2 separate regions of the Homo sapiens genome follow, and region 2 is linked to region 1. Evidence: fine-mapped expression QTL. A gene starts in region 1. The other region holds a variant in brackets. All regions are shown on one strand. Distances are from middle to middle. Region 1 holds the start of PHACTR3 (phosphatase and actin regulator 3). Region 2 has its middle 5.2 kb from the start of EDN3.

Evidence for each region. PIP is the estimated chance that this variant, and not a neighbour inherited with it, causes the effect. A credible set is the group of variants that fine-mapping cannot tell apart.
Region 2: its variant is the best candidate, but not a certain one, in a credible set for the expression of PHACTR3 in breast (GTEx, PIP 0.76).

The regions. Positions count from the first base shown.
Region 1 is chr20:59,601,623-59,606,996 of GRCh38, forward strand. PHACTR3 (phosphatase and actin regulator 3) reads left to right here and starts at 2,918. Exons shown (of 13, transcript NM_080672.5): 1 at 2,918-3,510. The coding sequence starts at 3,393. RefSeq lists a silencer at 2,539-2,739.
Region 2 is chr20:59,292,681-59,298,054 of GRCh38, forward strand. No RefSeq gene overlaps it. Among named protein-coding and RNA genes, the nearest start is that of EDN3, 5.2 kb to the right of the region's middle. The variant G/T (reference allele first, on the strand shown) is at 3,177.

The DNA.
Region 1 (5,374 bases):
CCGACTTTGAAGTCCAAAGTCTCTCCGGCAGGCAATTTACCCGGAGACCTTATTATCTTCTATTGGTCAGTAGAGGTGGGATTGCTAACTTTTTTTAAATTTAAAACTATTTTTAGTATGGAACATCTCAAAGCCAAAGAATAATATAAGGAAAAGCTCCAGCTCTACCTACCTTTAACAAACCACAGTGCTTTGCTAAAATATATACTTCTAAGAAATAAAACTTGGTTGCATCTCATCTTCTGCTTCCCCACTCCATGTGGGCTCCTGAGCTCAAATGCCAAGTCTTATCCTTTTATATGTTTTTAACCCTCATCCATACACAGTTTGGTGGAGTAGGTGAATGGGTGCTGCTGTGTAGACCATCTGAAGGGACTAGGGATAATTTTTGGTGGTGCACGGACAAGGCAGGAACATTGGCTTAGATAGAAAGTTCCTTCCATTCTTTGTCCTTATGGTAACATTAAGGAGGATGTCTCTATTCGGTGCCTGCCTGGCTGAACTCCTCTCTCACCCTTGGGCCCTTTTTAACCACACAGGAGACAGCTCAGGCCAAGAGTGGACTCAGGTATTGAGTTAGTGCCGTGGTCCCCCCCACCAATGCCAGCCAGCGAGGCTGTGCTCCATCAGTCCTATTGAAGGCTTCCTTTAACATGCATGTCGGCCCGGTGTGGAGGTGCACACTGTACTCCCAAGTACTAGGAAGGCTGAGGTGGGATGATTGTTTGAGCCCAGGAGTTTGAGGCTGTAGTGCACTATGATTGCCCCCGTGAATAGCCACTGCACTCCAGCCTGGAAAACAGAGCAAAACTCTTTCAAAAAAAAAAAAAAAAGAGAGAGAGAGAGAAAAGAAAAAATATGTTTAAGTGCAAAGAGTTGATTTAAAGACAAATCTTAAGGGATGGAAGGATAGGTTTTAAATAGGGAAGGCTAAAAATCATAGGGATGGTTGGCAAATGACAGACAGCTGGAGACCTCTGGTGTGATCTTTCTCCTCCCCCCCACCTATAGCCAGTCTCTGGGCTCTATCCCTTCCTGCCCATCCCCACCATTTCTGCACCTGCCGTGGCTGGGTCAGCTGCAGGCTTCCTTCCAATGGAACTGAACTGTCTCAGGTGTTCACTCACCCAGACTCGGAAGGGGCCCAAGGCATGGTTGGGGGCAAGGATTCAGAAACCTTCCCATGGGGCCAGTACTCAGTGTGTCAGGACAGCCCCTGGGGACTTGGAGTGGGAGGTGTTGAAGACCCACTTGGAGAGACCCTGGGCCAAGAGCATTGGCTGTGGCCCAGCTCTTCCACGTGCTGGCTTGTAACCTGGGCAAGAGTGCTCACCTCTTGAAGTTGCCTTCATCTCAAAAGTGGAGACCACAGTAGCTCTCACCTACCAGGGCAGTTGTAGGAAGGAATGAGGTCCCCATGCAAAATGCTCAGTCCAAGGCTGGCAGGCCACTTCACCATCCAGCCAGCACATTTTTATGTGGATAAAACGTATCTATTCCTAGCAGTTTCCCACCAGTTTCCTCTTTGTTTCCTGATCTTAATTGCCAACTGTAATTAAATGATTATTTGGGCATCTTATTAGTGTGTTGGTGACCATTCTCGGCTTCACCCTCCCCCTTTCCCGGAAGACTCAAGGAGTTGGGGCGTCTCTGTGTTTGTGCACTGCTAGGTCCCTAATGCCTGGTGTGGTGCCTGGCACACACTCGACTCTGCACACAGTCTGAATGAATGAATGAGTCCTTTCTTTAGAGGTGACTGATGCTGCTGAAATAACTGCTGCTAAGAGCCCAAAGCTCTGTGTGGAGTGAACATCCACTTTATTCCCCCTCCCCACCACCACCCCGCTCAGTTCTGTCCTTGGCGCTTAACCGGGATTTCGTCCACACTGCCAGCGCTCACACTGCACTCCCAGGCCCTGCTGTAGGTGCTAATCTGATGGGGGCAGCCTTAGGGAGGGCTCTGTCCCCAGCAGGAGGACCCTTGGTGAGCGACTCTCCCCGCTTGCCCCCACCCCTTCCAGCACCTGCAAAGGGGGCTTAGAGCGGGGCTGCCCCATGGGGTTGAGAAATTGAAATGGGGGTGTCCTCCCCCAGGTGTCTCTGTGGTCCTTGAATCCTGGTGTCTGTTGAAATGCCTCCTCCTCTGGGCACCTTCCAGGACCAGGCCAGGTGACACCACCATTCCACCCCCGTCTCTACCCCTTTCCTGGACTTTCTTCCTTCCCTGCCCTGGCTGGGGAAGCAGCGGCTGCCTGCCTGTGTTCACCCCACACCACCGCTGGGGTTGTGAGAATCGCTCCTTAGCACCCTGGAGGACACCTCTGTGAGTGGCAGCCCTGGGGGGTGTCGCCTCCCTTGCCTGGCCCCTCAGGTTCCTAAGGGCGTCTGAGGAAAAGCCTCATTGGAAAGCGCCCGTGCCCTCCTCCCTCTCCCCCGCCCCCCCGCCCCCCGGCAGGGAGGAGGGTTCGGAGCGAGGGTTCGGAGGGTCCGGGGTGCCCTAGCAGGCCCAGGCCAGGTGGTTGCGGGGAGGAAGCCTCAGGTCGCTCCCCTCCGGTGCCGGGGTGGGCGCGTCGGGACCCACTGGCCTCCCAGTCCCAGGAGAGGAAGGACCAGGGAAACCAGCTGTCTGCAGCTGCTGGGGAAATTAGGGGCTCTCAGGGTTCCCTTTCCTCCGGGAGGGGAGGAAACGGGACTAGGAAGCTTTCCTGTTTCTAGAGCACGGCTTGGTGGGGTGGGCGGCTCCTAACCCGGGGTCCAGCCCCTCCTCCCCCACCCCGGCGCGCGGTCCAGGTATGTGCGACCCCTCCCAGTGGCCACGCGCCTTCTCACGCCCCTCTCCCGTGACGTCATGCTCCTCTCGCGCGGCATGATGGGAGAATCCTAATGTTTTCCAACAGATGCTCCAAGAACAGCTTTCAGATTAAAGCAATTGCAAGAGCAAAGATTCTTCCTTTTCCCTTTTTTCCTGGGGGGGTGGGGGGTGGGGTGGGGGGAGGGAGCGCCCCCAGACATTCCAGGACATCACCCCCTGCCCCAAGCACGCAATAAACACTGACAAGAAAAAGTTTTTATTTCCTGGTTCAACTTTTTTTTTTTTCCCTGGAATATAGACTGAAGAATGGGAATAAACACGAATAAATAACAAAGCGAGGCCGCGCACGCCGGGATGCGCCTGGCTGCAGCCGGCGAGGCTATTGTCTCCCCGCCCTGAAGCCAGCCCCGGCGTCTTTCTCCAGCTCGTTTCCTTTCCCGGCCTTTTTTTTTTTTTTTTTTTTTTAATTTTCTTTTTTAAAAAGACGCCCCCTCCAGCCCCCTCGCCGGTGACCTTGGCCGCCTCGGATGCTCTGATTCCACGCGGCTCGCTCTAACTTGCCCCCGCGCCGGCCGGGCCCATGGCCGCGTCGGAGGACGGGAGCGGCTGCCTCGTGTCGCGGGGCCGCTCGCAGAGTGACCCCAGCGTCCTCACCGACTCCTCGGCCACCTCCTCCGCGGACGCCGGGGAGAACCCAGGTAACGGGCTGGGCGGGGGCGGCGGGCGGGTCGGGGAGGCCCGAGGCAGGTGGCGCTGAGAGCAGGACCCCGCGAGGCTCCGCGCCCCGCCTGCATTCGGGGAGCCGCGGCAGGAACCCGCGCTCGGCCCCGCGGTTCCTATCCCCAGTCTCGCAGGGCTGGGGCGCCTCGGAGCCCTTTGTCCATAAAAGAGCTGATTTCCTGGGTAGAGCCGGGCGCTGCAGCTTCCCCTCCTCTCCGGCTGGTGAGCTCTGCCGTCCCCTCGAAGGAGGCTTCCTTTCCTCGGGTGCTGACCGGCTGGGGGAAGAGAGGCAGACCCGTGGCCGCCTCCGCCCAGCGCCGGTTCTGGGCCATTCCCTCCCTCCCCACTGCCGGGCCCCAGCTCCGGACGTCCCCGCTTGGGCATCTGCTCCTGGAAGGCAGCGCTCCGCAGCTGAGGCCACCGCGCTGAGGGCTTCCACCAGGCGCCTGACTCCAGCGGGGCCTGGCGCACCTGGGCGCGCTAGCCCCCGGACAGGTGTGCTGGGCAGAGCCGCCGGCAGGGAGACGAAGGGCGTGCGCCAGGACAGAGCCCGGTTTCGTGACAGCGTGTGGACTCCGTCCACTCTTCCACCCCCATGGCAGCGTTGATTGTTTAGGTGATAAACCGGTCACAAAGGCGTCTATAGGGCTTGATTGATTACTTTCCAGAGAGGAAGAAAGGCCTAATAAAGCGGGGGGGGAGGTGGGGGGGGGGGTGGGCTGTGTGCGCCTGTCACCATGGAGACGCAGGAAGCAAAGTGATCATTAAAACCTCTCTCCACCAGAAGGCAATTTTCACTTCACAGGGAGAAGTCTGGGCTTCTGAAATGTAGGGTTCAAAAAAAGAATCAAAGCTGGTGTTTTGGTATCAAGCCACAGGACTCAGTTTTGTATCTTAGAGAAGCACAATTCCTTCGTAGATTCTGTTTTGATAACAAGTTGCTTCGCCTGCCTTTGAAGACTTATTCTCTCTAAATGCAACGACCCCAGATGGGGACTTGATGATGTTAAATGGTGGGCATCAGAATCCCTGGGGCCCGGGTGAAGGCTGGCTTTGTGGGGAGGGATTCCTGCACTGGAACACACCAGAGCTTCCCGATAAACTGCCTAGAGGACTCATTACAGGCAGCTGTGTGGGCACTGGATCCCTCCCCCCCCCATTTGAAAATTTAAACAATAAACCCGGGCAAGTATTGGAAGATTTCTTTGTTAAGACTATTGACACTGTGTCACTTGGTCAAACTAAGGTACCGGCCTGAATAAATCTCTGACTTTTCTTTATCTGGGAGGGCAGGTTAATTTCCTTAGAGTTTCAAGCAGAGGCTGCCATGGCCGACCCTTAAGGTTTTAATTAATCCTTTTACTAGGAATGGGGGATTCAGCCTTCAGCACTCCATGATGGATTGCCTTTCTCTGGGTTGGAGAGGCGCATCCACAACTGTTCCAATCATGGAAGTTGAGTGGCTTCTCATGAGAATCCTTCTAAGCTCCCTTTGTCTCCCTGGCAGTAAGAGGAAGCAAACTTGAAATGGAAATTATGGAGGACTTGGCTTTTTGGCTGTATGTGAGTTTATGCCTCTGTGGGTGGGAGCGGAGGGTTGGGCAGGTGGTGCCGGTCCATGAGAGAAGGAGGAGGAAGGGCTGGGATGCCTGTGATTAAGTTATGCGTGGGAGGGCACAGGCTTGAGCTCTCCTCTGGTGCAACTGGTCTAAATGGGACCCAGAGAACAGGTGTCAGAGGTGAAAAGTCTAAAATATGTGCAATTCTGTGAGCAGTAGAACCTTACTAAAAAGCACCAAGCAATTAAGTATTTATGGATTGTGTGAAGCAGATTGTGTTTCT
Region 2 (5,374 bases), 310 kb before region 1:
CTCTGCCCTTCCCATTACTGTCTCTTTCATCAAGCCCAATGTCATATTAGTTAATTCTTTGTTTTGTCTTAGTTCTTGGAGGCATCTCATGGAGGCACCATCTTGTTCCCAGGGGTAATCTTAGTACTTAGAAAAAGTGTCTGACTCCCAGTAGGTGCTTAATAAGTAGTTGAATGAATAAAGGGACAAACACAGAACCCTTTTACATGACTTTCATAGTGATGTGAGTTGCGACATCTCAGTAACTAAGAGTTTAATTCTAAGGTTTTTTTTTTCTTTTTTTTTTTTTTTAAAGCCAAATGATTCCCATTTCCTCCCCAATCCATCAGCACGTTCCGGCAGGAGATTTTGCTCTCTCGGAGTCCTACGTCTCTGAGAAGGTACCAGGTCAAATCCTGCCCCCCCTGCATTTCTGAATCTGAATTATGACTTCCGGGCTTGATTGTGTTACTCTTTTGTTTAACTGTGTCCTGCTAAAGTGGTTTGAGCTCATTAAAAACACAATTGTGAAATTTCTTTCAGAAGAAAATGCGTCTGTGCCCTAGCTTGAGAAGTTCTGTGAAGTCCATTCCTTATTTTAGGTTTTGAAAGTTCCAGAATCCGGCAGCCAGCTTAGATTTCTGTTCTTCCTTCCCCCACCCGCAGTGGCTTCTCCTCCGTCCCATTGGTTTTTGCTGCCCTCTCACCGTTCATTTCCTTACTTCTCTTTCAAGTTTGAACTGTTCCCAGGTGTGAGGGAGGAGGAAAAGTAGGTGACATACTAGGAATGCAGAACCTTCAATATCTTTTTTTTCTCTAGCGCTGGGGACAGAAGTTTAAATAGTTTCATGTAAGGAAAAAAAGCTAGCTGTTTTTTTTTGTGGGGGGGTGGACCCACAAGCCTCAACAACAATGAATCACCTGCACTCTATAAATTCCTCTATTTTTAACCACTGCTTTTGATGTTTAAGAGTGGCAACTTAGGTTTGGAGCCCAACTTCATGTTCAGCTCAGCCAGCATCTACAAATGGATTTCTCAGGACCACGACAGCACTTTAGGCTGTTGTAGGACTTCATTTCCTGCTTGTGGTAGATTGCAAATAGCCCCAATTCTTCACACCTCTCTTACTACACCCTTTGCCATGGTGTGCCCTCCTGAGTCACAACAGCTTGGCCATGGGACTTGGTTTGGCCATTGGGATGTTCATGGAGCCAACAGAGGCTTGCATGGGGCCCGTGTGTTAAGCTTTCATCTCTGGAGCCCCTTCTCCTGCTATGAGAAGGACATACCTGGCTGGCCTGCTGGAGGAAAAGAGACTTGGGGAGTAGAGGTGAGTAATTCTCATTGTCTCAGTCAAGGTCAACCCGGATCCTCCAGCAGCTATCCCCAGACAAACGACTGAGTCCAGCAGGGGGTCTAGGCAGTCCACAGAGCTGCCTAGCCACTGGATGCTTTGCTGACCATCATTGCAGTTTGAGGAACACTTGTAATGCACATTACGTGGCAATGGATAACTCATACACCATCCTCAAAGGACTTCCAATCTGGTGAGAGGCAAAAGTTTGCACATAACCATAATTACTAAAACTACTATCACTGCTGGGTAACATTTATCCAATGCTTATTTATTTTGCTCCAGGTCCTATATTCAATGCTTCACTGTCATTTAATCTGTGCGACAACGCTTATCCTCAGTTCACAGATGAGGAAATTGAGTCTCAAAGAGGTGCAGTGACTTGCCCAAGGTCACACAGCTAGGCAAGGGGGATGTCAGTATTTTGATCCAGGTCTGTTTGACTTCAAAGCCCATGAGTGAGGCCATTATGCTTTCCTGCAAGTCTAAATGTTTGAGCAGCTACAGGAGGATCTCAACATATTATTTTTTTAAACAGGCAAATCAGGTTGCTAGAAGGGGCAGCATTTGATCTGGGACTTAAAGTGGCTTTGGTCAGGATTTCATGCAATGAGGTGAGAATGAAGGAGTGCTTATGTGAATATTTTTATTCTGCAAACAGATCAAGGTATTTGGCAGCTGCTGGAAAGTTTTCCACATCCAGTGATTGGCTGCATTTGGTGGACACAGGGACTCATCACTATATGAACTTTAAAGGGATACAGCTTGTGAAAAATTCCTCTGATAAAAGTCAAGGCTACTTCAAGGTAATTAAAACACACAGGTGTGTTTGTGGCATGTTGACTTAACTTATTCAAAAGCATCTCTCCCATGTATCTGCTGAGATGCTTGAAATTCCCAACTTTGGCTGAGGCATTGAAGGCTCCAGTTAAAGTACACACATGTTGTTTGAGATAAGTTGAGACTGTGTGTGTGTGTGTGTGTGTGTGTGTGTGTGTGCGTGCATGCGGTCTGGGTCAGGGCTCCTGGGAGGGATGGGAAAGGTATGAGTTAGAGGCATTGCTGAAATAAAACAAATACCAAAATGCAAGAGATTCCAAAAACAAATCGACTTCCTTTACCTTTTTCCCCCAAGGGCTGGGTGCTGTTGAGAGATGGAATCTGTGCCCTTCCATCAGGAAGTGGTCTGTCTATGGGTATGAGGCTCCAGGTTAGCATTGCATTGGATGGTTGTATAATGTGCTGCTTCGGGGTCCAAATGGCCACTCTTTCTCTCTTCCCTGCATGGTTTCTACTCCCACCAGAGATGGTTTTGAACGAGCACTTATGTCTTGCCTGCTAGAACTGTGAAATTTCAGACTTTCTAGAAAAAAACTAAGCATTTATTTCAGTAGCTCTTCTCATTCCCTGACCAATGAACCAACATAGCCATTCTGCTGCTGGTTCTGGAGACAATTACCATGAGCAGCATCCATGTTCTTTACAGCCTACTCCACTCTCACAGTAAGTTGAGACAAAACACATCGGGATGCTTTTGACTGCGAGTGGAAGAAACCTAACTTGAACTGGTGTCAGCAAAGATGGAGATGTCTTGGCTGATGTAGGTGAAAGGTCCAAGGAGCCATGTTGGGTCCAGGGCTTATGACTTAGCCTTGATTCCCTACTTCTACTTTCTACTTTCTACCGATTACTCTGTGTTGGCACCATTCCCGGAGAGACTTTTCACCTCATGATGACAAGTACTGCTGGCACCAGCAAGCTTTCATCTGATTTTCTCAGCGGCTCCCCAGAAAAACAGAAGAGCCTCTTTTCAAAGTCCCAGAACTGAATCTCCTGGGTCCT[G/T]AGCAGCCAGGCTTGGCTCATGGGCCTATCTCTGGACAAATCACTATATTTAAAGTTGTATTAATTTCTTATTGCTGCTGCAACAAATCATCATGAACTTAATGGTTTAAAACAATACCAATTGATTATCTTATAGTTCTGGAGGTCAGCAGTCTAAAAATAGGTTGGAAGGGCTATGTGCCTTCTGGAGGCTGAAGGAAAGAATTCATTCCCTTGCCTTTTCCATTTTCTAGACATTGCCTGTGTTCCTCTGCTCATAGCCTTGTACCAGCCCAACTTCTGTTTCCATTGTCACAGCTTCTCTGACGCTGACCCTCCCCCTCCCTCTTAAAAGAACATTTTTAAAAATTACATTGCCCACCGCCCCCCACCCCCGATAATCCAGGGTCATCTCCCATCTCAATGTCTTTAATCACACCCTTAAAATCCCTTTTGCCATGTTAGTTGACATATTCACAGGTTCTGAGGATTAGGACATGGACATCTTTGGGGATACCATTATTCTTCCTATCTCAAAGATGATGTATGGTCTGATTAGTTAATCCATAGTCACAAGCCTGGCCCTGGAGCGTCCCCTGAAACCACTTGGACAGAGAAGGGGAGGGGTGGTTCCCCAGGGGAAGATGTGGTCCATTACCAGACCTGGAGGGATGGGGATGCTGGCAGGGCAACAACAGCAAATGTCCACAGCAGAAAACACAGGAAAAAACTTCAGGACTCTTTTGAACAAGTTTTGTTGCTTTTGGGATCACCCGATTTCTCTTAGGCTTTGAACACATTTTATTGATAGCACTAAAGTTCAGAATGCATTGTGATCATTTTATTTCACGGAGAATATTATACACAGTGTACCTCATTTGTAAAGCAAGGGATTTGGAGCCTGGCACTTCCTCCAGTGCATCTTAGAATGAACCACGTGCCAGTGAGGGAAGACACAGCTAAGAGTTGGACAACATGGAAAAGCACTTAATTACTTGGTTTTTGAGTAAGTCCAGAGTTCCTGCTGCTGTGGGTGGGTGGGGAGAAGAAATTCCAGCATGATGGAAAACTACATAATGTATTATGTTACTCTCCCTTAAATCCCTTAAATTAAAGGAAAAACAATCTTCAAAGAATCATAAAGCACATAAAGAGACAACTTGAGGGGATGCTTATCTGAGATAAATTGCAACATTCTTAATGGCTGGGTTTTGAATCAAAATGTAAGTGGTAAGGACTCAAAGTATCAGTCGCACATCTGCTGACTTGGAAAAAGTTGAGGAAAAATAAACACAATGACCAAGCCGTGCACTTGGCCGAGCCCCAGCAGTGTCCTGATACATGACTTCTCCTAGGGGCACATTGGATGCTGAGGCAGTGAAGGAGGATCAAGGAATATTGGCAGACGTCTGCGGAGAAGAATGCCTATTCATTCGTGTCCTCTGTAGAGGTCATCATTCCTTTACATGACCTTCCATCAGAGATTATGGAATGGAAACTAGACAGATGGAGAGGCAGTGAGTTGTCAATGATACACAGAAGAAAATGGGAACCATTAAAACCTTGGGTATGAGTTCCAGAGGCAGCGCTGCTTAAGCATTATGAACTCTGTCCCTGGAATCATGTGGAGTCAAATTTGAATCCTGATAGACTGCCACTTAATAGATGCATGGTTGTAGGCTGGTTACTTTGACCTTTTCGAGCCTTAGTTTTTTAATCTGTGAGATGGGGATAATGTTAGCATAAATTTTGTTGAGTTGTCACAAGGGCAAAACAATGATGGAAACCACCAGCTTGCCATTGAGTTACATGAATTGTATATTTCCTTTGCACATTTCTTAGCCTGGAACCCAGAAGGCTTTGTGATCTTGCCAAGTCTCCAAGCCGGCTTTACAATGAATTACTTCATATTGTAATTGAGGTTACCTTTACTTGACTTAAGTGTATTAATTTAGAAAGGAATTTTATGTCAATCACTACCATGCACAGTAAGCCCGATTCCACAGCCTGACAAAGGCTCCAAGCCTATGGCCTGCTATCCCTTTGTACAAGCCTATGGCCTGCTACATTCCTTTTGTATCCCTTTGTTCAAAAATCCCTTTGTACAGCTCTCTCTCTGTTCGAGAGCTGTTAAAGACACATCGAGTCATTGCCCTGGCCATCGTCAGAAGCCAGAAGAACAGTAGGAAAGGGAGCTCTTTCGCTTGAGAGCTGGTGTT